7 separate regions of the Homo sapiens genome follow, and regions 1, 3, 4, 5, 6 and 7 are each reported to be linked to region 2. Evidence: microRNA targets listed by miRTarBase, many of them from high-throughput screens and not tested one by one. Region 2 holds a microRNA gene; each other region holds the end of a gene's coding sequence.
Evidence for each region. Region 2 holds the annotated microRNA hsa-miR-7-5p (UGGAAGACUAGUGAUUUUGUUGUU, at 1,440-1,463, shown strand). A microRNA usually pairs through its seed, bases 2 to 8, with sites in the 3' UTR of a target mRNA and lowers its output. Matches are read on the target gene's strand: a 7mer-m8 pairs with bases 2 to 8, a 7mer-A1 pairs with bases 2 to 7 and ends in A, and an 8mer does both.

Region 1: the mRNA of ROR1 is a reported target of hsa-miR-7-5p. Seed matches in the 3' UTR shown: 7mer-m8 at 2,090-2,096.
Region 3: miRTarBase lists TMED2 as a target of hsa-miR-7-5p. The part of its 3' UTR that is shown has no 7-base or 8-base seed match.
Region 4: the mRNA of NXT2 is a reported target of hsa-miR-7-5p. Seed matches in the 3' UTR shown: 8mer at 1,849-1,856, 8mer at 1,857-1,864 and 7mer-A1 at 1,998-2,004.
Region 5: the mRNA of SSX1 is a reported target of hsa-miR-7-5p. The part of its 3' UTR that is shown has no 7-base or 8-base seed match.
Region 6: miRTarBase lists APLP2 as a target of hsa-miR-7-5p. The part of its 3' UTR that is shown has no 7-base or 8-base seed match.
Region 7: miRTarBase lists ADCY9 as a target of hsa-miR-7-5p. Seed matches in the 3' UTR shown: 8mer at 2,430-2,437.

What each region holds. Positions count from the first base shown.
Region 1 is chr1:64,178,071-64,182,138 of GRCh38, reverse strand. ROR1 (receptor tyrosine kinase like orphan receptor 1) reads right to left here. Exons shown (of 9, transcript NM_005012.4): 9 at 641-4,068. The coding sequence ends at 3,284. Among named protein-coding and RNA genes, the nearest start is that of UBE2U, 24 kb to the left of the region's middle.
Region 2 is chr19:4,769,261-4,773,328 of GRCh38, forward strand. It overlaps MIR7-3 (microRNA 7-3), which reads left to right and starts at 1,410; the gene lies at 1,410-1,519. It overlaps MIR7-3HG (MIR7-3 host gene), which reads left to right. Exons shown (of 3, transcript NR_027148.1): 1 at 1-91; 2 at 370-497; 3 at 2,904-3,296. RefSeq lists a silencer at 277-571.
Region 3 is chr12:123,596,475-123,600,542 of GRCh38, forward strand. It overlaps TMED2 (transmembrane p24 trafficking protein 2), which reads left to right. Exons shown (of 4, transcript NM_006815.4): 4 at 131-2,108. The coding sequence ends at 255. Among named protein-coding and RNA genes, the nearest start is that of DDX55, 3.6 kb to the right of the region's middle.
Region 4 is chrX:109,541,943-109,546,010 of GRCh38, forward strand. NXT2 (nuclear transport factor 2 like export factor 2) reads left to right here. Exons shown (of 4, transcript NM_001242617.2): 4 at 565-2,756. The coding sequence ends at 746. Among named protein-coding and RNA genes, the nearest start is that of NXT2, 7.1 kb to the left of the region's middle.
Region 5 is chrX:48,266,186-48,270,243 of GRCh38, reverse strand. SSX1 (SSX family member 1) reads right to left here. Exons shown (of 8, transcript NM_005635.4): 7 at 3,853-3,957; 8 at 2,800-3,390. The coding sequence ends at 3,857. Among named protein-coding and RNA genes, the nearest start is that of SSX1, 13 kb to the right of the region's middle.
Region 6 is chr11:130,142,755-130,146,822 of GRCh38, forward strand. APLP2 (amyloid beta precursor like protein 2) reads left to right here. Exons shown (of 17, transcript NM_001142276.2): 17 at 593-2,051. The coding sequence ends at 694. Among named protein-coding and RNA genes, the nearest start is that of ST14, 15 kb to the right of the region's middle. RefSeq lists a silencer at 2,740-3,034 and an enhancer at 3,105-4,068.
Region 7 is chr16:3,962,291-3,966,358 of GRCh38, reverse strand. ADCY9 (adenylate cyclase 9) reads left to right here. Exons shown (of 11, transcript NM_001116.4): 11 at 1-3,706. The coding sequence ends at 584. Among named protein-coding and RNA genes, the nearest start is that of TRIDDENT, 14 kb to the right of the region's middle.

The sequences.
Region 1 (4,068 bases), not on the chromosome of region 2:
CTGTACCTAAAACAGATGGATAAGGCCCTAAAGGTTTTATTGTATTCCTTTCTGTGTTAAATAGCAGATATGGACAACTTCTTTGAACTTTCATTATGGTACTCATTTTCCTTGACCATGTGTATTAATTGCCAGATGAGGAACTCTTTCTTTTGGGCAAATAAGGTCATAAAGATAAGTTGTGACAATTAAATGGCCCCATTTATTTTATCAGTATGTTTGGAAGCTAAGTTGGGCATGATAAGATGTACACAGCCTCTTCTTCTTTAGAGTCCAAAGAGGTGACTTTTGATATCTAAGATTATATGGAAATATTAAGGCAGAAAATGATGCAACTATATTCTTAAAATCAAATATTTTTTATATTCCATTGGTTGTAACTATTCAATATATTATTTTGATTTTAAAAATTCAAAGCTTGCCATATATAGGTGGATAGTATTCAGTTATGAAATCATTAGGATTCCCCTCTCCACCTATGGTTGCTAGCAAAATAATGCCCAAGTCTGTTTTAAAAGCCTACTGAAAAAAAAAAATTTAATGAAATAACAGCAAATAGGAATTGTGATTCCTCTTTCTATAAAATGTAAATGTTAAAATCCCCAAATACCTCTATGACAGCAATATTCAGGAAATAATATTTTATAGTAAACATTTTTAATAAACAGCAGCATAAAATAATCAGTGTTTAATATCATCTCTGGTGTGTGAAATACAAATGCATATATCCTTAATATAAAATAGCCTTTTTGTCATTACAATTCAATGCTTGCCTATTTGAAATGCCCATAATAACAAATCAAACATTAAGTAATACAGTGATTAAATGCATGCAGTGAAAATAAGGAAAGATATGGTAAGGTGAGATATCTGAAAATTGCCATTATATATTTGAAGAAAATCTATATCAAGTTAAAAACAAAGGAAACAAGAAAAACAGACCAGATATAAAAATGCAAAGATATATTTTCACTTCTGTGACACAAACCATAAGCATAGTTTTGTGCAAAAAAGGAGAAAAAGATCTGAAAATAAAGTCATCTTACAAAACATTGTCAACAAAGGAAAAGATATTTTTCAGCTTGTGAAAAAAATACTATTTTAATACAAAAGAGACTGTGTTATATAGTATCACAGTGCGATTATAAAATACATTATTACAAGTGGTTTTGAAATTTCATTTGCTCACTTTAATGTTTTCAGTTATTATAAAATGTTTAAAATAAATGTTATAGTTCTTTATAAAAAACTAACTTGAATTTACTTTTTAACCATAATAATGTTTTACCAGAGTAGGTATTTTACTGGCTCATGGAATGCTAATTTCCCTTTAAGGGACTCCTAGAAAAACTCAAGATTCACTGAAATTGTGTACTTAAAATAATAAATATTCTTGGAAAACAATTGATTGTCATATGATATACAAAATTGTGGTTTGAAGCTTCATCATTAAACAGTTGCATAGCAACAAAAGGATACAAATATTCTCCTCTACCTAAAGTTAAGAAATGTAACTTCTGAATCAGCTTATTTATGCCACAAAAATATGTTTTAATTTATCTCCCAGAAATCTGGATATAACCAATTCTTCTAGTTCACAGTACCTATAAGTTCATGTTTGTTATTTGAAGACTCAGGTTTGGGAAAATTGCAATGCATTTTGGTAAACATATTTTCTTGATTTCTCATGCTAGTTGTATTTTTTAAAAATGAAAACATCAATGTGTTTTTCATTCTCTTACATTCTCCTCATCAAATATCATTTCCAGGAATTACTTTTATATCCCGTAAGTCTCTTTAGAAGTCTCTTATACCTTTAAAGTAAAAATGAGACTTTGAGACATTGTTCTTAGAATAAAGGAGTTTTTTTTTAACAAGAGAAAAATCAAAAGTAAAATTACTTTCTATATAGAACTTGAAACGCATAAGAATTCTAAACTTGGCAAAAGATGGTCGGCAGGTAAATGCCATGAGCTGCACATTTGAAACCTCCCACTAAGGCAAAAATGGTCATGTTACTTCGGTTTGCTAGTTTAAAGAATTCAGTTCTTGGTAACTTTTGAAATGAGAACTCAGTACTTGTTTTTTAGGAAGACCATCATATTTTGCAAAATAGAATTAATTGCCTTTGGATTCCAACTGACTGTATGAATACATTGTTGTAATTCTTGGGGCGGGAATCAAATCTGTGAACATTTCCAGCACAGAAAAAAAGGGAAAGAAACTTTAAAATTACTAGACATTTGTATCATGATGGAGTTTCCTACTTCCCTAGAGCCCATTGACCATAAGCACTCCAATGCCTCGGACAACTTGTAAACAGGGAGTTGCAAGGGGTGGGCGTGCTCATCTGTAGCCACACACTTATTTTTCAGTGTTACTGGTTCCAGAAAACTCCTATGGGGGCTGTCCCCATGGGAACCCTTTTTCCTTTCCCACAGATGCTGATCTAGGCTGTGGGGCCATTTTCCTGGCTGTGCTTCCTTTGGCGCCTCATTCCTAATCCAGCAAAGAGAACTATCAACCAACAATCAATTCTAGCATCCACATCTAGCCTTCTTATGGTCTGATGCGCTGTGTTATTCCAAGGGCAGTGTAAACACACTGTGAGAAACTGTGGGAAAGACCCTCATGATCAGAGGAGGATTCACAAAAAGGCACACTCTACACCTTCCCAAAGAAGCACAACGACATAAAAGGCTTCAGGGCTTGTTATACTTCCCTTATGGCTCATTTCCCTCCAGGGTTTCAAATTTGGCCTGAAGTTTCTTCATGGATTCTGAACATCATTTCCATAAGAACATGCACAGAGTCTAAATTCAATCAATATAATTCCTGAACATCTGTCCTGAAGAAAAGACAGCAGGTAGACAAATGCTATGGTATATATACATCTGGGGGAGAGACCAGTCATGGTGACTGAAGGCTAAAACACAAAGCACCATTTGACTTTTGGTTTTATATTTAATCACAAGGTTCTTTTCCTCTTCACTGGTTTGCAGCTTTCAGTGCTCGAAACCACATGTTCCAATCCCAATGCCATGTCATGCACTCCAATGGAGTGCACATCCCACAATGTTTTTGTTTGCTTGTTTTTTTTTTTTTTTTTTTTTTCTGGCCGAGTGTCTGTCCTGCTTGGTAAGACACAGTGAAACTTCACAGAAGGTACTTGTTGCGATGTCTGCTAAATGAGAACCTTACTTTAATAAAAACATTTGAATATAAATCTTTTCTACGGCCGTCTAGTTTGTCCTGTATACCACATTTACAAAAGTTGTGCATTTTACAGTTCTGCAGAAATCATAGATTCGGTGTGTCCATGAATATTGGCGTCTCCTAGTAAAGATGCTTGCTTTGAGTCAATTTTGTAGGGTTTTTGAGATTTGTTGCCAAAAACGGTGATACCCATTCCACCAGGATGATTTGGAATTGACATGTGTGGTAGTAAAGGAATATTTGCTTCCTGATTGGATCCTGATGAGGGCAAGCTAGTCACATGGCCAGTGCTAGTCGACCCACTGGCACTGCTTGGGGACCGACTCTTGGGAGGTGGGCAGTGCTGAATCACTCTGGGAGGACCTGTTGGCTGGTAGTGGGCAGCTGGAAACGCTGCATATCCAGGAGGTATTGGGTATCCATTGATGGGAATGAATCGCTGGTTCTGAGGTATTGGCGGGCCAATGAAACCAGCAATCTGGCCCTGTGGTGTAATACCCTGGCTCGGGAACATGTAATTAGGATATCTGGGGTTACTGAGATTACTCACTGGGCTGGCACTGAGGGAGGTTGTCTGTGTGGTGGCATTTCCCCCTGAAGGAGTAGTAGAGCTTGTGTGACTTGAGAGTCCCTCCCAGGACCGAAGCCGGACGTGAATATCTTTAAATCTTGGTCTCCTAGAAGGAATCTCATTCCAGCACTCTGTCATGAGGCTGTACATTCTGGGTGGGCAGTCTTCAGAGCATGGTAAGAGCTGCCGTTTTCTCACCATCTCAATCACTTCCTGGTTACTGAATCCATAATATGGCTGGAGTCCAAAACTGAAAATCTCCCACAAGACAACCCCAAAGG
Region 2 (4,068 bases):
TTGGCGCATGGACATTTTCCCAGAAAGGGACAGAGACGGCGAAGTTTGACGGTCTGGAAAGCAGAGACCAGCAGGGCTGACTGCTTGGGAGGTAAGTTCTGGGGACATGGTACAGGGTGAGGAGCAGGTATCAGTGCTAGTTGCGACCCCTCTGTGTCTCCCCCCCGCCACCCCATTGCCATTCTGAAGCTCCCCAGGAAGAAGCTAGGAGGGGAAATAAATTGAGTGGGGGTGGGGTTTCCCAAGAATCGGAGGAACCGAGAACGAAGAGGGGTGGGGGAACGGGGAAAGAGAGAGGAAAATCAAGTTTTCTTCAGCACGAGGGACAGCTCTCCACCGACCGAAGGAGGAGAATGCTATTTATTTCAGCACCAAATATCCGGACAGCGCCTCTCGGGAGGTCCGAGAAGAGAACCGCGATCTGTTTCAGCACCGGGGCTCAGGACAGTTCCCAGCGGGCTCCGTTTCGTCTCCAGAACCCTGGACAGCTCCTCCAGGTAACGGGAGAGCCCTTTGACCCTGATTTTGCAGGGGGAGGACGAGAGAGGGTGGTCTGAGGTGCCTGGCATTTCTGGAGACCTGCACCTCATGTAATGGATTTTTAAACAAAGTATTTTCCAGATAAGCACACACAGAAGTCTGCAATTTTCTTTTTTTTTCGAGACGGAGTCTTGCTCTGTCGCCCAGGCTGGAGTGCAGTGGCACGATCTCGGCTCACTGCAACCTCTGCCTCCTGGGTTCAAGGGATTCTCCTGCCTCAGCCTCCCGAGTATCTGGGATTACAGGCACATGCCACCACTCCCGGCTAATTTTTGTATTCTTAGTAGAGACGGGGTTTCACCATGTTGGCCAGGCTGGTCTCAAACTCTTGACCTCTTCATCCGTCCACCTCAGCCTCCCAAAGTGCTAGGATTACAGGCGTGAGTCACTGCGCCTGGCCCAAGTCCGGAATTTTCAACAGGTAAGATACCTCACTGGGGTAACAGCTGCCTGCTAAGATGACATTATGGTGTCTCTTCCAGACTTCGGTGAGAAACCTTGTGCCAAGCATTTTACATACATCATATCATGCCATCTTCAACCCTAGGACATGGGTGTTACTGTGCCCATGTGACATTTGGGGAACCCAAGGCCCTGAGAAAGGCAGAAAAATAACCCACGCAGGGACTCTCAGCCCACAAGTGAAGCTGTAAGTCAACCCCACCAGTCCAACTCCAAATCCCATGTCTCTGACGTGCCTGGGTGGGAGGTGGGCCCTTGGAGATCAGACCCTGCTTCTCTCCAGGAGAACCGGGAATGGAAAACAGGGAGGCAGCACAGAGGCAGGAAACTCAGGTGTCATAGCTTGGCTCAGGTGAGAAGGAGGAGCTGGGCAGGGGTCTCAGACATGGGGCAGAGGGTGGTGAAGAAGATTAGAGTGGCTGTGGTCTAGTGCTGTGTGGAAGACTAGTGATTTTGTTGTTCTGATGTACTACGACAACAAGTCACAGCCGGCCTCATAGCGCAGACTCCCTTCGACCTTCGCCTTCAATGGGCTGGCCAGTGGGGGAGAACCGGGGAGGTCGGGGAAGAATCGCTTCCACTCGGAGTGGGGGGGCTGGCTCACTCCAGGCGATACAGGCACAGGCAAAGGAGGGAAGCAAACAAGGACATACATCCTGTGCTCATACAGCCATGCACCATGTATGGGGTTTGTCACATCACTCGTACGCCCCCACAAGCCTGGAGATAGAACATACCTGACTCTAAACCCAAGACCTCTAACCACCTTATGGCGCTTTCCTGGGAGACCCAATGAGGGAATGACATTTAAAGCCCTCCCTAGACCAGAGTTCTCAGGGTACTTTTCTATTAAAAAAAAAATTATTATTTTTTTGGCCGGGTGGCTCACGCCTGTCATCCCAGCACTTTGGGAGGCCAAGGCAGGTGGACCACTTGAGGCCAGGAGTTCAAGACCAGCCTGGACAACATGGTGAAACTCCATTTCTCCTAAAAATACAAAAATTAGCTGGGCGTTGTGGCACACACCTGTAGTCCCAGCTACTCGGGAGGCTGAGGCATGGGAATCCCTTGAACCCAGGAGGCAGAGGCTGCATGACCCAAGATTGCACCACTGCACTCCAGCCTGGGCAACAGAGAGAGATTCTGTCTCAAAAAACATTTTTTTTTTCTTTTTTGTAAAGACATGGTCTCCTGCCTCAGCCTCTCAAAGTGCCAAGATTACAGGTGTGAGCCACCGAACCCAGCCTAAGGATACTTTTCAATAAAAGTTCCAGAAGTGGGCTGGGTGTGGGAGCTCATACCTGTAATCCTAACATTTTGGGAGGATGAGATGGGAGGATTGCTTGAGTACAGGAGTTTGAGACCAGCCTGGGCAATATAGTGAGACCCCGTGAGTTGACACATGCCTGTAGTCCCAACTACTTAGGAGGTGGGAGGAACACTTGAGCCTGGGAGATCAAGGCTGCAGTGAGCCATGACTGCACCACTGCACTCCAGACTGGGCAACAGAACAACACCCTGTTTCAAAAAAAAAGTTTCAGAAAAGATTCCTTTCCTGTCTGCTACCCATCAGTGTCATGGGCCAATCATAGGACAAGTGTGAACTTGTGCCCAGTGGTGACTTATGACATCATAAAGGCTCACCACCTTTGCCAGACATGGTGGCTCACACTTGTAATCCCAGCACTTTGGGAGGCCAAGGTGGGAGGATAGCTTGAGCTCAGGAGTTCGAGACCAGCCTGGGCAACATAGCAAGACCTCATCTCAGTAAAAAATAATAAATAAATAAATAAATATATAAGACTCACTCCCAATTCTCTGCAACACCCTAATCAAGTGAAAAACTGCACATGGTTACCTGTTCTCCAGCCTCAGGGCTTTTGCCTCTGCTGTTCCTGCAGCTTGGAATGCACTCCCTCCACCTCCAACCAGAGCTCCCCACAACTGACCCTGCCTTCTTCTGCAAGCTCCATTTCATCAAGGGAAACGATCCTTATTGCCTCACCATTTCCCACGTGAAGTCTGTATTGACATTCTCATAGACCTGGGATATTGTGTCTGCAGCACATAGTCCAATTATTTTCATGTTATCTACTGACAGGTCTATTTGTCTCCCTGTTACACTGTGAGCTCCGTGAGGGCAGAAACAATGTTAGTATTTTCACTGCTGTGTCCCCAGCGCCTGGTCCGGGGCCCGGCACACAGCAGGCATATAATAAGCATGTGTTGAATCAATAAAGGCATCAAAGAATAAACCAATACATCAATCAATAAATGAATGAATGGCCTCAGCACACACAGGAAGATCCTTCTTCTAGGTCTCCCCCAGAGAGATACTGGAGGGCAATGGTTGCTGGAGGTGTTTATTGGGGAAGCATAATTGAATTTGTGGACACTTAAGGGCCGGCCAGCCAACTCACAGCCCCAAGAGAGAGAGCCAGGCTCATTTAATTAGCAATTACAAGGCACTGATTCCTCATTAGCTCTGGCAACCCTCGTCTCCCTCCTCAGCCCCAGACAAATGAAATCTTTCTCTCTCTCCCAGGAGTACTGCCTCAGTGGGTCCATTAACAAGCAGAGAAAATGAGATTAGAAGACACCTAAATGCCAGAGGCACTTTATGAATGGGCTGAGCAGAGGGAGGTTCAATGTCTGGGTTAGGTCTAATTGTGGGAGGTTTCCTGGTCTATTTAGAATTGCCCCCTGGGAATGCAAGGTCTTTCAGAAAGGAAAAGGCACACAGATATTGCCTTCTGGGGTCCTCAATGGAGGAGGACATTCTGCTATGGGTGTCTCCCAGTCACCCCAAATTAATCATTTCAAAGTGAACACTCAATCTGCCCAGCCCCTAGCTTCCTCCCCTGACATGCCCATGAATATGACAGTCCCTCTACATGCCCAAGATCCTCCCCTCCTCATCCACTCCCCATGATCCCCAAGATGAGTCACTGTGCTCAAATCCATCCTCTCTCCTCCAGCCCTCTGCCTCCATGACCTCCCTCCAGCCCTCTGCCTCCATGACCTCCGCCTCCCTGCATGTCCGGATCTCCTCACTGTCTCCCCTCT
Region 3 (4,068 bases), not on the chromosome of region 2:
GGAACATCTATTCTATGAGTGGTGTACACAATATTACTTTCACACAGAGTGAAGACTAAAATATTTATGATGCCTATGTCTTTTTGGGGGAGAATTGTTAAATTTTGTTTGTTTGTTTTGTCCTCAACAGTCAACGACAACACAAACAGCAGAGTGGTCCTTTGGTCCTTCTTTGAAGCTCTTGTTCTAGTTGCCATGACATTGGGACAGATCTACTACCTGAAGAGATTTTTTGAAGTCCGGAGAGTTGTTTAAAAAGCCTCTTCCTGATGATCCCAACTCAGAATTCACTGTTTACCAAACACCTTGGTCATAATAATGTCATTAGTTTCTCCATTTTTATTTTCTGAACTGTACATTCACAACTTATGTTTCTTTGAGATTAATAGATATTGGGGGAAAAACGCCTTTTTAGGAAAATTATAGTGAAAATTTGACAGTTGATTGGCATAATTTCTTGTTTGAATGCTGCCTCCATTATATAGGTCCTTCCAGGAACTCAAACACTGTAAGTGAAATATGGGAGTATAGTTTTTATTATTTCTTCTTTTCCTTTTGTTTTCATAATATAATGCAGTTTGTTCAGGAAATCAGCACAAAGCCTGATAGTACTTTACTAAAATGACTGCATTCTTTGGATTCCTTCAGTCTATGGTTCAAGTCACTAAAGATTCATTTTTGTTGAGTCCTTATGAGAAACAGCAGTATGAATCTTGACGGTTTCTGCCCGTCCTAATGGCAGAGCTCTCTGACTTGGGTGTATGCTGCCAGGCTGGGTACTTTCATACTTTGTTTTCTTGTTTTGCTTTAAAACTACGACTCAGCATACATTTTCCCACATACATTTTTACATTGTACCTTAGGACTCAGTCATCTCCACTTAAATTGATGACACAAGCAGCTAATAACCATTTCTGGGTTTCTGCCTAACCCCCTAATTGTCTGTTAAAGCCAATTCTCTGGGTGTCCCAGTGAGTGGTGGCTTTTTTTCTTTCCACATTGGCACATTCACTTCTCCCACTCTTGGCATGTAAGAAATAAGCATTTACATAATTGGAAAAATCTGGATTTCTGATGCCAAAGGGTTAAAGCTTCTTGGATTTCATTTCATTGATATACAGCCACTATTTTATTTTTGATCAGTGGCCTTTGGGCCACTGTTCAGGGTACTGACCATCAGTGTCAGCATTAGGGTTTTGGTTTTTGTTTCTTTTGGGTCTTTCTTTTTTGGCACATGTGAATCTTGTTTTGTGTAAAATGAAATTACTTTCTCTTGTTCTCTGATGATGGGTTTAAAATTAAAAGAGCATCCGGTTTTGGTATGGGGATGATCCAGGATTATGTTGTGACTGATACATATTAGTTACTTGTGCTTTTTTTTTTTTTTTTGGATCTTTGCAAGGGCAAAACTACAAGTAACGAGTTTTATATAATTAATTTAAATTTGTTACAGGTTTTCATGTTCAGGATAAACCATACTTCCACCTTGGGTGAGAACACTTGCAACAGTTTATTAATGAGGTGACTTTCACCTTAGGACAACTGTTGCATGCCAAGTTTTTTGTGTGTGTGAAACACTTCAAAACTGATTTAAAAGATGTAAATTTAAAATTGGTTGTATCTAATATGCCCCAGGTTCGGTAAATAAACAATTCTTTTTAAAAACAGTATTCTGTGTTTTATATATTGACAGCTAATCCACATTTTTTACACACCAACTTTCTGTTCTTATTTGACATGAGACATGTTCATGTTTTCTGAGTATTTATACCTATTACGTCTGTTACTTTTTAATTCTATAAACTTGAGGATAGTGAATGGTACCAAGTTTTAGTTTCTGCGTAGGTTTTCCAGTGTGGCTTCTCTGATGGATCAGTGCTAAAATCTTAAGTATTTTTCTATTTGGGAAAAAAGGGTTGAATTATTTTCACTTGCCCACGTAGTTTATGAATGTGGGAAATAGCTTCAAAGACAGATTAAATGATTTGCCCAAGGCCACAGAAAAGAGTGAAAGGTGGAACCGGAGACTAGATCACCACCTGTAGAAACTGTTCTTCCTCTGTGAAACTAACGGCCTGCTGGTAATAAAAGTAGCTACCATTTCTTGAGTACTGTGTAATGTCTCGATCTAGTACTAAGCACTTTACTTGGTCTGTCTTATTCATGCTTCAAAACTGCCATTACCTTGGGTAAAACCATTTTGGAAGTGAGGAGGAAAACAGGCTTGGAAAGGGTCTTAAGGTCAGAAAACTAGTAGGTAGTAGAGCCCAGAAGACACACACAGATATGTAATTTCCCTGTGCCTTTGCTTTCAGAACTGTCTGTGAAGTCTCCCACCTTTTCTTTTTTTGGAGACAGGATCTCACTCTGTTCCCAGGTTGGCTTGATCTCTGCTCACTGAAGCCTCAACCTCCCGGGCTCAAGTGATCCTACCACCTCAGCTCTCCAAGTAGCTGGGACTACATTTTTTGTTTTTTAAAGACAGGGTCTTGCTTTGTTACCTGGACTGGAGTGCAGTGGCACAAACATGGCTCACTGGAGCCTTAACCTCTCAAGTGATCCTCTCATCTCAGCCTCCCGAGTAGCTGGGACCACAGGCATGCACCACCACGCCTAGCTAATTAAAAAATTATTTTTGTAGAGGCAGAGTCTCCTGTATGTTGCCCAGGCTGGCCTCATTCTCCTGGGCTCAAGTGATCCTCCTGCCTCAGCCTCCCAAAGTGTTGGGATTGCAGACATGAGCCACCGTGCCTAGCCGAAGTCCCATTTTATAAAAGTTGTCAAAGGTGTTTTGAGAATGTGATGATCATTTCACTGAAAATGTGGCTTCAGGCTGTTGTCTTTTACTTAATTTGAGATGACTGCAGTCTGCATGAGTTGTATTCCCATTTATCAATCCCACAAATATTTGAGTGATTGCTGTGTGCTACAGTGATAGTCCTTGGGATAAAGAAGATAGAGAAAAGACCCTATTAGTGTGGGTTTTACATTTTGGTGGCAGAGATGAACCTAATAAGTTTTGTGTGTGTGTGTGTGTGTTTGTGTGTGTGTGGCGAGAAAGAGATAATGGTAAATGCTAAGAAGGGAACATAAATCAAGGTAGGAGTTTCAGTGATACAGAAAGGAAGGTAACAGAAGTTGATTTCAAAAGTCCAAGTGGAATGTAAGGGAGTGTAAGGGAAAACTTCCCCTTTGCTCTCAGGTTTCTCTAAAAATTCAACTGAAAATAGGCAGATTAATAGGAGGAAAGTGATACAAATTTATTCGGTCATGCTTTTACATGACAAAGGAACCTTCAGAATTAAGACCCAAAGTTACAGGGAAAACTATTTTTATGCTTAGGCTCAACAAAATATGCACAGCTGAGTAGAAATAGGACTGGACAAGAAGGGCATGATCTAATGCTCATAGACTGAGTGGGGAAGCCCAGCGAGGCCTGTCTGGATTCTTTCCTTCTGGATAGGGGAAAGAACCCTTCCTGGAATGGGGTCTTACAACCTACCAGCAAAACAAAGGAGGTCAGATACATTTTTTTTTTTTTTGGAGACAGTCTCTCTCTGTCACCCAGGGTGGAGTGCGGTGGCGCGATCTTGGCTCACTGCAGCCTCCGCCTCCCGGGTTCAAGCAATTCTCCTGCCTCAGCCTCCCAAGTAGCTGGGAATACAGGCGCACGCTGCCACATCTGGCTAATTTTTTTTTGTATTTTTAGTAGAGACGGGATTTCACCGTCTGGTCTCGAACTCCTGAGCTCAGGCAATCTGCCCGCCTTGGCCTCCAAAAGTGCTAGGATTACAGGTGTGAGCCACCACGTCTGGCCTTTTTTTGTTTGTTTGTTTGTTTGTTTGTTTGTTTTTTGAGACTGAGTCTCACTCTGTCGCCCAGGCTGGAATGCAATGGTGCGATCTAGGATTACTGCAGCCTCCACTTCTCAGGTTCAAGCGATGCTTGTAGCTCAGCCTCCGGAGTAGCTGCAGGCACCTGCCACCACACCTGGCTAATTTTTTGTATTTTTAGTAGACAGGGTTTCACTACGTTGGCCAGGCTGGTCTCAAACTCCTTACCTTAGGT
Region 4 (4,068 bases), not on the chromosome of region 2:
TAAAATTATACCATATCTCTGATTAATGTGTTCAGTATCTTACAATCTACTAATATTTCACAGAAATTTACTCTGTTATGTGAAAGGATGACTTTTTACAAGAAAATTTGATTCCAGGTAGATTGATACAGTTTAATAAAACCTCTAGGTGGGGTCCTAAGTGTCTTAAATTGTAGTTCAGGGTGATTTTTTTCCTTTATAATTCCTGAAAAGAACAATAGTTTAAGAAGCAAAGCATGAATAAGCTCTGTTAGAAACCTGAAATATTAATTCTGAAATATTTATATATATATGAAGCAAATGGTCCTATGCTAGATATAAGCTCCTCATTTTGAAACTAGAGTATCCCAAAGTTTTCTGGACTGAAAATAATTTTAATATCTTTTACTAAGTACTTAGTTTTCTGGGTTTGAGTATGCATGCTTAAGATTATGCTCAAGGGACAGAAAGTGTATGAAAAAAATTTTAAGCATTAGTCCATAAACAATGTATTTTAAGCCTGAAAATCTGCTTATTTAGAGATAGAAAATGATGTGTTCTCTTTTTTTTTTAATGTGGATGAAGAGCAAGCAACTCAGTCCCAAACTACAGTTCTTGTTGTGACCAGTGGAACTGTGAAGTTTGATGGAAACAAACAACATTTCTTCAACCAGAACTTCCTGCTGACTGCTCAGTCCACTCCCAACAATACTGTGTGGAAGATTGCAAGTGATTGCTTCCGTTTTCAAGATTGGTCTAGTAGTTAAAGGGGCAAAAGTCCATTCTCATTTGGTCCATTAGTTCCAGCAATTGAAATTTATGTGAATTATTTTGATTGTAGAAGCACTATAATATGTGCTGAAACTAAATTTCTTTAATATTTTCTATTCCTGTCAGCACCTTTTCTAGCAGCTGCCAGTTTGGAGCATTGCCCTCTAAGAGCTTTAAAACTATTTTTTTACATGCCTTATATACATTCCACTAATGACATTCTTATAATAATATTAAACACATGATCTTGGTACTAACATACTCACTGTGAACCCAGCCTATTGCAAAAATAAAATCTTTTTATAATATTATCTATGGGATGTCAGCACAATATAACACTCTGGGAAGAAGTGGAGTTTTTTGGTTATTAGGTTAATTTTCTAGTAAAACACGTTGCCTGTTTTCAGTTAACACTGGTAATGCCATTTTAATATATGGCTTTTTCAAATCAGTTCAGTGAAAATAGTACAGATTTAGGTTTACATAACTACTCTGACATACTGGAATTGCATATAGAGATGTTCAGTGGTCGTTTTTCATTTTAAGTAATTTTTGTTTTGGCATTTTTTTGTGTGAAGTAAATTAATCAACTAGAGAGGTGCAAAACGTTCTCAGTTGATATCTGAGTATTGGGTGCATTTGGTGGCTTAAAAGCAAAGCTTCCTAAAAAGATTTTTCTTGGCAGCTCCAGGTCTATACATTTAGGTAATGAATGGTAGTAGAACTAATAGCTTTAACAGGAGAATAGGGAATGAGAAATAGAAATCCAAGGCTGAAGCCAAAAGTAAGGAGGGTGGCCAAATGGTAAACTATTGGTACTTGTTTTCTACCTCCTAAAAATGTAGCTTATTTTTAGGATTTAAATCACTAAGTAAATAAGTATCCTTGCCAAGTGATCATGAGTGTCATTTTTGTTCTAAGACTAATATTTTTAGATCTTTTTACTTCACCTCATACTTATCACCAATGTATATCTCCATTTATTCAATAACTTACTGGGGTAAAATAACAGCAATAAACCTAACCTTTTAACAGGGTCTAACATGAGAGTTGGAGTCAAAGCCATTGTTATCTTTTGGTGACACCCTTAAATTTTAAGTCTTCCAGTCTTCCATGTGAACTTTAGGCCCAAAGTTTCTTATGTATCACACATCCCCCAAATAAGTGATTTTTTCCCAGTGCTTTGTACTGTCAACTGCATTATCTTTAATTATTTAAAGGTAGAATTATTTAATTTTGTGATTTGTTCTTCCATATGACATTGAGCAAATAGATCTGTTTCAAAATATGTTCCCGCTATGTGGATAACTCTTCTTTTTAAAAAGAAAATAGAGAATAGCAAATCTTCATGATAATCCTCAAAAGAACAAAATGCTTAACTTTATCTCTTAATTTCTAAAGGTAAATAACCTAGGTTCAGCTTTTGCTTAAACATTAAATATCTTTTCCATTTTTTAATGTTTGTAAGCTAGATATGCCAGCTTTGTTTCTACATTGCAACCAAAAACTGTTTCTTTTCACTTAATTATAAAACCAGTAATTCATTTACTCTTGCCCAAAACTATACACTGTATTTCTGTTATAGTAACAAAATAGAGTTATGTAGAATTGTATGGAACTCAAATTTAAACCATGCTTTCTTGTAGTACTGATTGAAACTTACACGTTTTATTCTACTCATAGTGAGCTTATTCTTATTTTGGATTGATTTTCCAAAACCACAGCTTCAGCAGCAACAATCAGAATGTCCAAATGCTGTCCTTTCCCTTACAGAGAAGAACAATGGTAACTAAAAGCTGCATATAACTAGCAATAACTACATTGAACGGTGTGCATTGTTCATGATTGTTGTGTTTTAAGACTTGTATATAAACTGCTTTTTCCAAACTCTGTATAACTTTTAAATGGCTGGAACTACTCGTATAAGGACTAGACTGTATTTTTGACATGCTCCTATTTTTGTAACTTGAAAAAATAAAATTTTGCCTTGTGACAGATTTTCTCAAGATTGTTTTAAGGTCTTTTGATTTTTGTTCTTAGGTTTCAGAATGGTTACTTGTTTCTTTACAATATAAGGTTTTTTAAATTTAGAAAAAAATTACAGTAGTGTGTTGACAACAATGGTTAACAACTTGGATCTTCTTTTGGTTCTTTCTGTAACCTGCCACATCTGTCTCCTTTTCCTGCCAATTATTCACATTCCTGAGATCATCACTTGTTTGAGATACCTGTAGGTTTTTGGTGAGAAGTTGGAAATCTTAACCTTGAGAAACCAGCTAAAATGCTATATTCGATAGGCAGTGAAACCAAAATACAGTTGATTTCCAGAAAGAATGGTTCATTAAATTTAATTCTACATTAAAAATATGTCAACACTACTGGGTAAATAACGAAATGAAGGCAGAAATAAAGATGTTCTTTGAAACCAATGAGAACAAAGACACAACATACCAGAATCTCTGGGACACATTTGAAGCAGTGTGTAGAGGGAAATTTATAGCACTAAATGCCCACAAGAGAAAGCAGAAAAGATCGAAAATCGACACCCTAACATCACAATTAAAAAAACTAGAGAAGCAAGAGCAAACACATTCAAAAGCTAGCAGAAGGCAAGAAATAACTAACATCAGAGCAGAACTGAAGGAGATAGAGACACACACACACAAAAAAAAACCCTTCAAAAAATCAATGAATCCAGGAGCTGGTTTTTTGAAAAGATCAACAAAATAGATAGAGTACTAGTAAGACTAATAAAGAAGAAACCCCTGTGGGAGGCAATTAATTCAAAGAGAACTACAAACCACTGCTCAACGAAATAAAAGAGGACACAAACAAATGGAAGAACATTCCATGCTCATGGATAGGAAGAATCAATATTGTGAAAATGGCCATACTGCCCAAGGTAATTTATAGATTCAATGCCATCCCCATCAAGCTACCAAGAACTTTCTTCACAGAATTGGAAAACACTGCTTTAAAGTTCATATGGAGCTAAAAAAAGAGCCTGCATTGCCAAGACAATCCTAAGCAAAAAGAATAAAGCTGGAGGCATCATGCTACCTGACTTCAAACTATACTACAAGGCTACAGTAACCAAAACAGCATGGTACTGGTACCAAAACAGAGACATAGACCAATGGAACAGAATAGAGCCCTCAGAAATAATAACACACATCTACAACCATCTGATCTTTGACAAACCTGACAAAAACAAGAAATGGGGAAAGGATTCCCTACTGGTGCTGGGAAAACTGACTAGCCATATGTAGAAAGCTGAAACTGGATCCCTTCCTTACACTTTATACAAAAATTAATTCA
Region 5 (4,058 bases), not on the chromosome of region 2:
AGTCAGGAGATGTTCTTTGTAGGAAAGCTTCTGAAAAACTCCAAACCCATAATCAAAAAAACATGGAGCGAGAAAGGGCCTTAGGGTAATCATCAGGTAGGTTAATTTAAAAGTTCATTTGAAACGTCTGAACCAGCCAGATTCCCCTCCGACACAACACTCAGATTGGCTGGCAGTAGCCACTTTTGCCTCTAAGATGAAACTCTGATAATTGTTCATTAAAGAAAGCGAAGGCCTGGCGAGGTGGCTCACACTTGTCATCTTAACACTTTGGGAGGCTGAGGCAGGAGGATTGCCTGAAGCCAGTAGATAGAGACCAGCCTGGGCAATATAGTGGGATCCTGTCTCTACAGAAAATACAAAAATTAGCTGGGTGTGGTGGCAAGTGCCTGTAGTCCCAGGTAGTTCGTAAGCTGAAGTAGGAGAATCCCTTGAGCCTGGGAGATCGAAGCTGCAGTGAGCTGAAATTGCAGAACTGCACTCCAACCTGGGAGACAGAGTGCGATCCTGTCTCAAAAAAAATAAAAAAATAAAAAATAAAATATAAAAAAACACAGACATAAAAAAGTAATGCATCACTGGGCGCACTAGCTCACGCATGTAATCCCAGCACTTTGGGACGCTGAGGCCATCAGATCACGAGGCCAGAAGATCAACCTGGCTGACACAGTGAAACCCCGTTTCTACTAAAAATATAAAAAATTAGTTGGGAATGGTGGCACGCGCCTGTGTTCCCAGCGACTCTGGAGATTGAGGCAGGAGAATCGCTTGAACCTGGTAGGCAGAGGTTGCAGGGAGCCGACATCTCACCACTGCATTCCAGCCTGGACAACAGAGCGAGACTCTGTCTCAAAAAAAAAAAAAAGTAATGTATCAGGACTTGGTGTATCTTCGGCACTTCACAGTAATAATGAAGGAAAGAAACACATTTGTGGAGAGGGGACCATGTTCACTCTTTATCTATCCATGATAGACAGTCGGGAGCTTTATATACCCAAGAAACCTAAGGAAAAATGTTCCCTGTCATGACTCACACTCTTCCAGTCACCCTTCCTGGCACCTGTCTTGTGGGCTGGGGGACCCAACTTATGGATCCCATCATCCCAGGGAGAAAGAAAAACCAAATCCTTCAGTATCTCTTTTTGGGTATCCTCTCCTCTGTTTGCATGGAGGATAAGGCACCTGATATCTAGTAGCCGAATGTTACATTTGTGTAATACAGAACTATATTGGGATAAAATAGAATTTGTTTCCTCTGAGACACAGGTAGAGGCACGTCCACACTGACCTGGGGGGCAGCCACCTCTTCCTGCAGTGCCAGGCAGGGCGTGCTCACAGATCTGGGGAACCTCTGTTGCTCCTGGAGCCCCACAACCTCCTTCCTGGCACCCTCTCCCTCTGGTGGCTGTGACAGCCCACACTTGGTCTTGGGTATCCCCTGCTTCTTTGCCTGCCCCTCTTCTCCCTACGCTGCACATCTCTGTCTCCCACTGTCCCACTATGTCCACGATTGCCTCTTCCTCCCTGCACTCTCCATCTCTAAGGGTTCCTTGTCTTGGAAAATGAACCCACAGCCTCTACCTTGTGACGGGACAGAACCCGGGACTTGTTCAGTTCTCCCTTCCTCCACCACACACACCTGTCCTCCTTAATGTTTCTGAAGTCAGTGAGCTCCAAACTCAGCTCCTCCTGCACCTGCCAGCTGTAGGACCTGTGACAAGACGCCTACCATCTCTCTGGGACTCCGTCTCTCATCTGTCATATAGGCATAATGATCATAGTGTGCTCCTTCTAAGGCTGGGAGAACCAGGAGGCCAAGGTGATGGGCTATGGACGGTCAAAACAGCTCCAATCCTGCCTCCACCTGGGGCTGGTGTTTCAAGTCCATGGTGTGTGAATGGAGCTTTGATGTCTCCATTCACACACAATGCTTTGTGCTAAAATAGACTCCCCTCTGCCCTTCCCTTCCCCACAACTGTTTCCCCTCTGCACCGTGCATTGGTACCTGTGAGAAAGAACTGTCCCATTCCCAAATCATCGTCCCCACCCCAGCCCCCAGGCCCTTGGGTGGTGAGACCCTTGATGGGCAGTCTCATGCTTCTGTCCAGGGGACCTTCCCACCGTTGCTCCCCTGCATGGAGACTAAGTGGACTCTTCTATTCCCTGGCCATCACAGGGTCTACAGTGCACGCATCTTCCTCATTCCTCCATGTTCCCCAGATGACGATTTCATCTGTGTCTCTTCCCACATACTCCCAAATGGACCATCCCAGCCCTAGAACCCGAAAATTGTTCAGAGAGCGAAGGCCAAATTGCCCAACCACCTGCTGCAGAATCCTGCTCCAGGACTGAAGTGTATAGTCCCTATCAAAATAAAAACTGGAGGCCAGGCGCGGTGGCTCATGCCTGTAATCCTAGTACTTTAGGAGGCCAAGGTGGGAGGATCGCTTGAGCCCAGCAGTTCAAGGCTGCATTGAGCTATGATCGTGCCACTGCACTCCAGCCTGGACAGAGCAAGACCCCATCTCCAGAAGAAACAAACAAACAAAGAAACAAAGAAAGCCAACAACTGGAAACATCCTCCTCTAGAATGGTGGTCAGGAACATCTCCCCGTCTTGTTCCCTGATGTCTCTCCAGCACCTAGAACAGCGCTCAGCACGAGGACACACTCATTAGGGTTTTGTTGAATAAATGACTCCTTTGACATGGCAATTCCACTTCTAAGAATCTTTCTAAAGAAATATTCACACATGTGCACAAAGCTGTGTGCACAATAATGAGAGGAACAAACAACTGGGGAACGTTTGCAAAGGTTTATTAACTGTCAGTGACTGATACAGGGGAATCGGATGAGGGGAGTACATGCTGAACAGGAAACAGAGTGAGGGGGGCTTGACCAGGACGCATGGCAATGGGAAAAGCAGATGGGAGATGCTTATACTGGTACTTGGTGTGTGTGTGTGCGTGTGTGTGTGTGTGTGTGTGTAAATGCAGAGGAAAAAGTCTGAAATTAAACACTCAGAACTGCCCTCAGTAGTCACATCTGGGGAGAGATGAGGATAGTGCTGTTCTATGGAGAGAATACCTGACAATACTTGTTTTCTGACGTAGGTGCATGGATACACAAACCGAAATATGCATTCAGTATGTCTTGCTCATCAATTATAAGGATAGTATCTAACAGAATGGCACACTGTAAGAAAATACAATGGAAACACTAACATCGAACTCTTGGCACACTAAGAAAAATGACGCTCAAGTTTCACCGTTGTGAACACTTGCTTTCACTTGCTATGCACCTGATGACGAGGGAGCCGCAGCCATGCCCATGTTCGTGAAAGGTCACCACGTTCTGCTTCTCATCAAGGGCATGTGTCGTATCCCCCAGGCTGAGGCGAGAAGAGGGAAGGAAAGTAAGTGACAGCGAGTTCCCACTGCCCAATAACTCAACCTCAACTCCTCCTGACCTGCAGACCCTGCACACTCTGATTCTGCCCTACCCCAGGACCTGGACACGCCTTCCATGGTTCCTCGAAGTGAACCATCTGCTCATGCCACAGTGACTTCCTCGCCTGGTTTATGCATTCCTAGGCTAGAAGAAGGTGTGGCCACATATCAGGGCTGACCTGGGGTTTGGGAACCCACAGCATCCTGGGTGGTGAGGATCCCTGGATATACAGGGTAGGGAGTAGAAAGAGCATGGGAAATCTCATCATTCAGCCTCAATGCTGTACAGTAGAAAATTATGAGAAAGGAATGATTTGGGAAACAAATGACAAGATGGGATACCAGTACCATAACAGAATAGCACATCTGCAGGGATGTGGAGGGTGAGCCGAAGGTTCACTTACGGAGTTACTCGTCATCTTCCTCAGGGTCACTGATCTCTTCATAAATCACCAGCTGCTTTCTCTCACGCAGTCTGTGGGTCCAGGCATGTTTCCCCCTTTTGGGTCCTATGATGGAGAAGAGTTGGAAGATGAGGGTTGGGTACGTTGAAGAGTGTTAGGCTCTGTTTTCTCAAAAAAAGGAGATGCCTCCTCCCTCCCAAGTGCCC
Region 6 (4,068 bases), not on the chromosome of region 2:
AGGTGTGTGCCACCACGCCCAGCTAGTCTTTGTATTTTTATTAGAGATAGGATTTCCCCATATTGACCAGGGTGATCTCAAATCCTGACCTCAAGTGATCCACCCGCCTCAGCCTCCCAAAGTGCTGGGATTACAAGCATGAGCTACTGCACCTGGCCAGTTACTTGGTTTTATCTCCTGCTGGAGACTGGCCTAGCTGTAGAATTTCAGAACTGAAAAAGACCAGAGATCCCCTGGTCCCACCGTCTGCTTGCTAGCCTACTGCTGACTGGCTTGCCTTGGCTGGCCCAGGTAGTAAGCAGTGGCGCCGAGCCTTGCTTGTCACCACGGTGCTAGGAAATCCAGTTGACTGTCATCTTCCGTGAGGGCTAAGCTTTCAGGGCTCTCGTTTCGAAAGCATTGCCTCTTTGATCCCCTTATTTTCTTTCTCCTGTGTTTCACCACCGGTTCTCATTTGGCCTGTCCGGTGGGAACGGGCTGCTGGCTGCATTTGGTCCTCAGGGGATTGTGCAGCAAATGGCTCAGGTCTCCCAGCACCCTGTGCAGGTCTCTTCCCAGACACCACAATGACCCTCAGGTTTTGTTCTTCCAGGTTGATCCAATGCTCACCCCAGAAGAGCGTCACCTGAACAAGATGCAGAACCATGGCTATGAGAACCCCACCTACAAATACCTGGAGCAGATGCAGATTTAGGTGGCAGGGAGCGCGGCAGCCCTGGCGGAGGGATGCAGGTGGGCCGGAAGATCCCACGATTCCGATCGACTGCCAAGCAGCAGCCGCTGCCAGGGGCTGCGTCTGACATCCTGACCTCCTGGACTGTAGGACTATATAAAGTACTACTGTAGAACTGCAATTTCCATTCTTTTAAATGGGTGAAAAATGGTAATATAACAATATATGATATATAAACCTTAAATGAAAAAAATGATCTATTGCAGATATTTGATGTAGTTTTCTTTTTTAAATTAATCAGAAACCCCACTTCCATTGTATTGTCTGACACATGCTCTCAATATATAATAAATGGGAAATGTCGATTTTCAATAATAGACTTATATGCAGGCTGTCGTTCCGGTTATGTTGTGTAAGTCAACTCTTCAGCCTCATTCACTGTCCTGGCTTTTATTTAAAGAAAAAAAAGGCAGTATTCCCTTTTTAAATGAGCTTTCAGGAAGTTGCTGAGAAATGGGGTGGAATAGGGAACTGTAATGGCCACTGAAGCACGTGAGAGACCCTCGCAAAATGATGTGAAAGGACCAGTTTCTTGAAGTCCAGTGTTTCCACGGCTGGATACCTGTGTGTCTCCATAAAAGTCCTGTCACCAAGGACGTTAAAGGCATTTTATTCCAGCGTCTTCTAGAGAGCTTAGTGTATACAGATGAGGGTGTCCGCTGCTGCTTTCCTTCGGAATCCAGTGCTTCCACAGAGATTAGCCTGTAGCTTATATTTGACATTCTTCACTGTCTGTTGTTTACCTACCGTAGCTTTTTACCGTTCACTTCCCCTTCCAACTATGTCCAGATGTGCAGGCTCCTCCTCTCTGGACTTTCTCCAAAGGCACTGACCCTCGGCCTCTACTTTGTCCCCTCACCTCCACCCCCTCCTGTCACCGGCCTTGTGACATTCACTCAGAGAAGACCACACCAAGGAGGCGGCCGCTGGCCCAGGAGAGAACACGGGGAGGTTTGTTTGTGTGAAAGGAAAGTAGTCCAGGCTGTCCCTGAAACTGAGTCTGTGGACACTGTGGAAAGCTTTGAACAATTGTGTTTTCGTCACAGGAGTCTTTGTAATGCTTGTACAGTTGATGTCGATGCTCACTGCTTCTGCTTTTTCTTTCTTTTTATTTTAAATCTGAAGGTTCTGGTAACCTGTGGTGTATTTTTATTTTCCTGTGACTGTTTTTGTTTTGTTTTTTTCCTTTTTCCTCCCCTTTGACCCTATTCATGTCTCTACCCACTATGCACAGATTAAACTTCACCTACAAACTCCTTAATATGATCTGTGGAGAATGTACACAGTTTAAACACATCAATAAATACTTTAACTTCCACCGAGACTGCTCGTTTCACTGACTGCGGCATTGATCTGCGTGATGGTCCTACCCCCTTCCTCCAGGAGGGTGATAACTTCGTTCCACGAAGGACCCCAGCTGCACCTCACAGGCGGAAATACGTCTGCTCAAGCTGTGACTCAAGGCTTCCAGCGCCGTTTCGCATTTAGAAAGCAAAGTAAGAGGGAACATCTGCACAGAGCATTTGTCTGGCAAAATTTAGGCTACTGATATTTATTAATATGAGACTTCTTAATGCTACTGGGAACAATGAGTAGGGCTTGTGGCTGAATTTTCAGAGGAATGCTTGCAGCTTCCATTTGCTTAAATAACCTGACACTGGGAGGCCCTGTCACCTCACTGATGGGGGTGTTTGGTTTGTTGCCTTGGCAACTGCTTAGAGGGCTTTCTGCCTGGGCCCAGTTTTATCTACTGAGCTAAGATCTTTTTAATGCCCAGCTACAGGGAAGAGGGTCAATTCAGGGGTAAATCTCAGTCCCTACCCTAGTTTAATGCCAGTTTAAATATACAGAGTAGTTATCAAGGTAATGTCATATATAGCTGTGTGTAGATGTACATGTGTGTACATACGTGACGAATCTTCCCTAGGATACTGGACTAGGGAGTGTTTTATGAGCCAGGAAAGCATTTTGTGAGCCAGGTGAACAGGTTGGTTCTTTATAATGATTACCACTTCCCCATCAGCCTCTCCCTTCTGCCTGCATTGGTCACTGAAGTTGCTGCCAGGAAAGCCCTGAAGAAGAGGGAACTTTTTTGTTTTTTGAAACCAGTTTCTGCTGGAGTGCTCTGAAGAGTGTTATCACCTGACCCTCTGTAGTATCAGCTGGAAACTGATCTCAGGGTCATTCTGATTTCAAAGCTAACAGACCAGCTTCATTGATTTTAGTGCCTGCCATGTACTAGCTGCCTCCAAGTCAGAGGCGCATTTTTGTCTTTTTTTCTTTTTTTTTGAGACAGAGTCTGTTGCCCAGGCTGGAGTGCAGGGGCGCGATCTCAGCTCACTGCAACCTCTGCCTCATAGGTTCAAGCAATTCTGTCTCAGCCTCCCGAGTAGCTGGGACTACAGGCGTGCACCACCATGCCTGGCTAATTTTTTTTTGTATTTTTGGTAGAGACAGGGTTTCACCACGTTGGCCAGGCTGGTCTCGAACTCCTGACCTCATGATCCACTCGCCTCGGCCTCTCAATGTGCTGGGATTACAGGCGTGAGCCACCATGCCCAGCTCCATTTAGTCTTAACCTTTTGAGGCATTCCCCTCTTCCAGAAATGACGCTGAGGTCTTCCACGGAGCAGTAAGGGGTGGAGCAGAGATGCAAACCCAGCTCGGTGGGAGTTCTTCCTTTATTCAGTGTACTTCAGTCCTGGGGGAGGCAGGGGCGGGGGCATGGCAGCCAATACCCATCCAGCTGCTCAGCTCTCGAGTCTCTTACCTGTTACTCACATTCCTGTTGCTGATGGGTTAGAGAGGAGTTTGGGGCTGGTGAAAGTGCAGTGGTTTCTATTTACACGTTCATTACCCAAATGGGGTCATTGCAGAGACAGTCGGGGTTAGCTGAGAACTGGGGAGGCCTGAGAGATGACGTGGAAATGAATGAGAGGCAGGGCTGCCAGGCGGCCTCACCCTAGGCAGGCTCCACTCTGCTCCCTGGTGGCTCACCCACCTCCCGGGAACTGAGAGAAGCTCCTGGTTTCTGCCTTGGTGACTCAGCCTTGACCTCTGGGGAATGTGGCCCTGCCCACCTTGCGGCCAGCCTCAGGTGCTGGTGCTGACAGGTGCGAAGGTCCTCCTACCTGCCTGTCTGCTTTCAGTTGCAAATCAGAGCTCAGCAGCTGAGGTTTGAGCCAGGACATCAGATGCCCTGATCTCTGGTTTCTGTTGCTGTGACAACTGACAAAGCTCTTTAGGAGGTACAGATGAGGATGTAATGAGTCCCTAAGTTTTGGAGAGGCCCAAGGGTCCACTATCATAGGAGCAGGTGAAAAAGTATTTAAAAA
Region 7 (4,068 bases), not on the chromosome of region 2:
ACTTCAAGCTCCGCGTCGGCTTCAACCATGGGCCCCTCACGGCCGGGGTCATCGGCACCACCAAGCTGCTGTACGACATCTGGGGAGACACCGTCAACATCGCCAGCAGGATGGACACCACCGGCGTGGAGTGCCGCATCCAGGTGAGCGAAGAGAGCTACCGCGTCTTGAGCAAGATGGGCTATGACTTCGACTACAGAGGGACCGTGAATGTCAAGGGGAAAGGCCAGATGAAGACCTACCTGTACCCAAAGTGCACGGATCACAGGGTCATCCCACAGCACCAGCTGTCCATCTCCCCAGACATCCGCGTCCAGGTGGATGGCAGCATCGGACGGTCTCCCACAGACGAGATTGCCAACCTGGTGCCTTCTGTCCAGTATGTGGACAAGACATCTCTGGGTTCTGACAGCAGCACGCAGGCCAAGGATGCCCACCTGTCCCCCAAGAGACCGTGGAAGGAGCCCGTCAAAGCCGAAGAAAGGGGTCGATTTGGCAAAGCCATAGAGAAAGACGACTGTGACGAAACAGGAATAGAAGAAGCCAACGAACTCACCAAGCTCAACGTTTCAAAGAGTGTGTGAGGCGGCGCCCACCCGCTGCCCGAGGTGCTCTGTTTGTCGAAACACAGTAATATTTGTATTTGGCTGTTGTGCTTTCCAAGCGCCACAGTTGCCCTCCCCGGACGTGGTGTTATGTGGTCATTTCAGCCCTAACTTCTGTGTGGATCACAGTTATTCAGGGTTCATTTTCATCCATTCTTCCCTTTCGCTCCCTTCCCTGGAAACCCCGCTGCCTCTGGGTCATCCGTTCAGCACGTGGTGGAGAACAAGTGCCTTCAGGGCTGGCCTCGGCCTCGAGTCTCGGGACAGAGGCCGCCAGTGGAGATCATGGCTTTGGGTATTATTTGACTTTTAGAACAAAAGCTGTGGTTAAGATCTCATTTTTATTGCTTTTTCCCACGTCCCACGAGACACTATTTTCGGTTCTCTGGCTAATACCCTGTTTTTGAGTTTATTTTGTTTCTGTCTATGTCACAGTGTTCCTCTACGACCCGACCTCTCTATGTAAGCACACATGCGCACACACACTTGCATTCATGAATCTGATATAAAGTGCCAGTAATCCGCCAAGAGGGGGTGCGAAGGGGGCATGTCACGACAGCTCCGCCACCCCCCATTGCCCACCCGCACTTTCCCGAGCACCGCGCCCCGTGGGCTGTGGGTGAGCCGCGCTCCCTGCACTGAGCGGGTTTAGGGGCTCGCCCACATGCATGCAGGCCAAGACAGCAAATGCCAGCCGGGCACGACGCCCGTGTGCCCAGGCCTCGGGGGTCTCAGAGCCGCCTCTCACCCCCGACCCTCCACCCAGGGGTCTCCCCATCGGGAGTGGAGGTGTTGGTCCTGGAAGCTGACTCATCGGAGAGGGAAATACCAAATAAACATCCGAGGTTGCATTTATTTATTTATTTATTTACCCGGAAGCATGTGCGCTCCCGGGAGGGGTGCTGGGTCCTCAGGGTGGGGGGTCATAGCCACAGGGGAGGGCAGTTCCCAGGAAGGTAACCAGATGTCTCTTTTGTGTTTTGGCCACCTGGGGCCGCCCCCAACCTCCCCACCCCAAGAGGGGTCTGAGTGGGACCTCAAAGCATGGCCAGTGCAATTCTGAGGCTAGGGGAATAGGAGAAGCCCACCAGCTGCCCCTGCCACCCACGGGGGCTCCTCCCTGCCGGGGTCCAGCTCAGAACCACGGGGGTCTGTGCCGGCAGCACCGGTGCCATCTTGGCTTCCACAAATTCCAGAAGTTTCTTGGCTGCCTCCCGCTCTCAGATGGCACAGGGCCTATCAGTGGCAGGATTTAATCTGGGGAGCAAATTCCAGCTCTGAAATGGAGTTCTCACACCGTATCTAGGGACAGAGGCATCTGGATGCAAACGCGGGGTTTGTTAGGGGCGGAATCCCGAGGGTGGTGTGGGGGAGCTCCGTCCGGGCAGTTGGCTGCTGGTCCTGTCTGATTATGTTTTGCCATATTGAGTCTGAAGTTTGTGTGGAAGTGAGCTCGCCCGAGTTGTCCGGTCGGAGTTGTAGCCAGTCTTTCAGGGGACCCCGGGACGCTGATGAGGCCCAGGGTGCACTCCTTGTCAGTCTTGCCCGTTGTCCCTGTGCATTTTGCTTTCCGCTGTCAAATCTCACTGTCTCGTTTTCACACCGCATCAGTCCCCATCATCACTACTCCTCCCCAGAGACATACAGATTGCCCTCCCCGGCATGAAGAAGTCACAATTCTGACCCGCCACCTCTCCAGGGGCGGTGCCTGGGATGGCCACCCATCAGGACAGCCAGAGCCAGGGTCCCGGCGTCCTGAGAGTCCAGGGCACCTCCCCCCATTAGCTGTAAGGTTTCCTGTCAGGTGTGACTGTCAGTTTGCTGGTCTTCCAATACCGAAGAAAGGGTGGTTGTGACAATACCTCTTGCTTCTAAAGAATGTATTATAAAACACCGCAGATTTTTTTTTTTCCTTAAAAAACACTACCTGATGCTTTCCTTGTTCGTGGGGATTGTGGTCACATGAAGCTCTTTCTGCATCAGTATTAAGGTGTATATTTGAATGTCCTCCCCTCCCCTTTCCCCTCCAGGCTGTGTAGCTTTGAGGGGCTGGGCGTTTGCTCACGACCTTGCTGTCTCGCTCAGAACATGCTCCGCAAAGTTCTCCGCACACACTTCTTCCCCATCAAGCCCATTTCCTTCCCCAACCACAAAGGTGTTTGTGATTCCTCACCCCGGGAAACCAAGGAGCTGCAAAGTGGAGTCTGGTTCAGCCCCGTGCAGACTCACCCAGAGCTTAACGTTGTCTTTCAAACACCCTGAGCCTTCCTAAACAGCCAGTGCAGACGTTCTCTCTGGGCCACGAAGCCCCTCGGGTCCTCCCCGTCCCCTGCTCCGATGCATACCTCAGTGCAGAACCACAGAATCTCTGCAGCGGAAACGCCGTGCATCTCTTGTCTGTTGGCAGCGAGCACATCGTGCTGGAGACACGAGTTTCTAAGCAGCTGGCACGAGGGCTGCTGACGGCATGGGTCGTGCTTCAGGGTGGCAATACCTCTTAGGAACTTAGGGCAGGAAGCAATACTTCAGCATTGAATGTGTGTAAATAGTTGCTTTGAGTTGCAATTGCTATTTTCTTCTCAGTCCCAGCTCAGATCGAATTATATATCCATATATATATATATATATATATATATATATATATATATATATATATGGTAAACAAGCACACACAATTTTATCCAATGCAAACAAATGTAGAGCATCAGTTACAAAACCCTCGAATAGCTTGAGAGCCCCACAGGCTCTGCCACACCCGTGACTTCATCCACACTGACGTCACCCGCGGGGGCTCCCCCTGCACATTTGCACACGATCCGGAGAGCCGAAGGCCGCGTGCTTCCTGTCACATGGGCTGTAATCATTTGTAGTTTCCAAAGACACGTCTGCATTTGAATTTCTAGATTTTCGAGGTAAGGAGTTTTTTTTAATTGGTTGTTTGGAAAATCACATCATGCCTAGAATCTGAAATTGAATTAGCAAGAACCGACTGTTTGCATTTTCCATATATCCTTTTATCTGCTCTTTTTAAATTGTTAATTCTAATAATTTCAAAATGCATTCACTGAAGAAATGGACATTAAAATATTCTAAAATTTAAATATATGATGCCTGGTGTTTTCTTATTGAAAAGATGAGCACTGCTTCAGAGAGGAGGGCGGTCTTCCTTGGACAGCTCGTGTTTTCTGCGATCTGTGGCTCACCTGGGTGGGTTTGCCTTTCTTTCACGTCATGACTTCAGAAACAGGGCAAGTAGAAAACCCTGTTTGTGTTTATGTTATTTTTTTAATTGGATCTATTTGCTCCAGTTAACTTGAGTTGAAAAGTATTTATTTTTACACAGAATTTTTTAAACAATAAAAGTAAGGTTGCAGGACAAGTTTTGCTTGTGAGATTTTCCCTGTCAGGCCTCCTAAATAGTTTTCTGCAACATCCTTAGAGAAGGAATTGAGGGGGAAAAAGT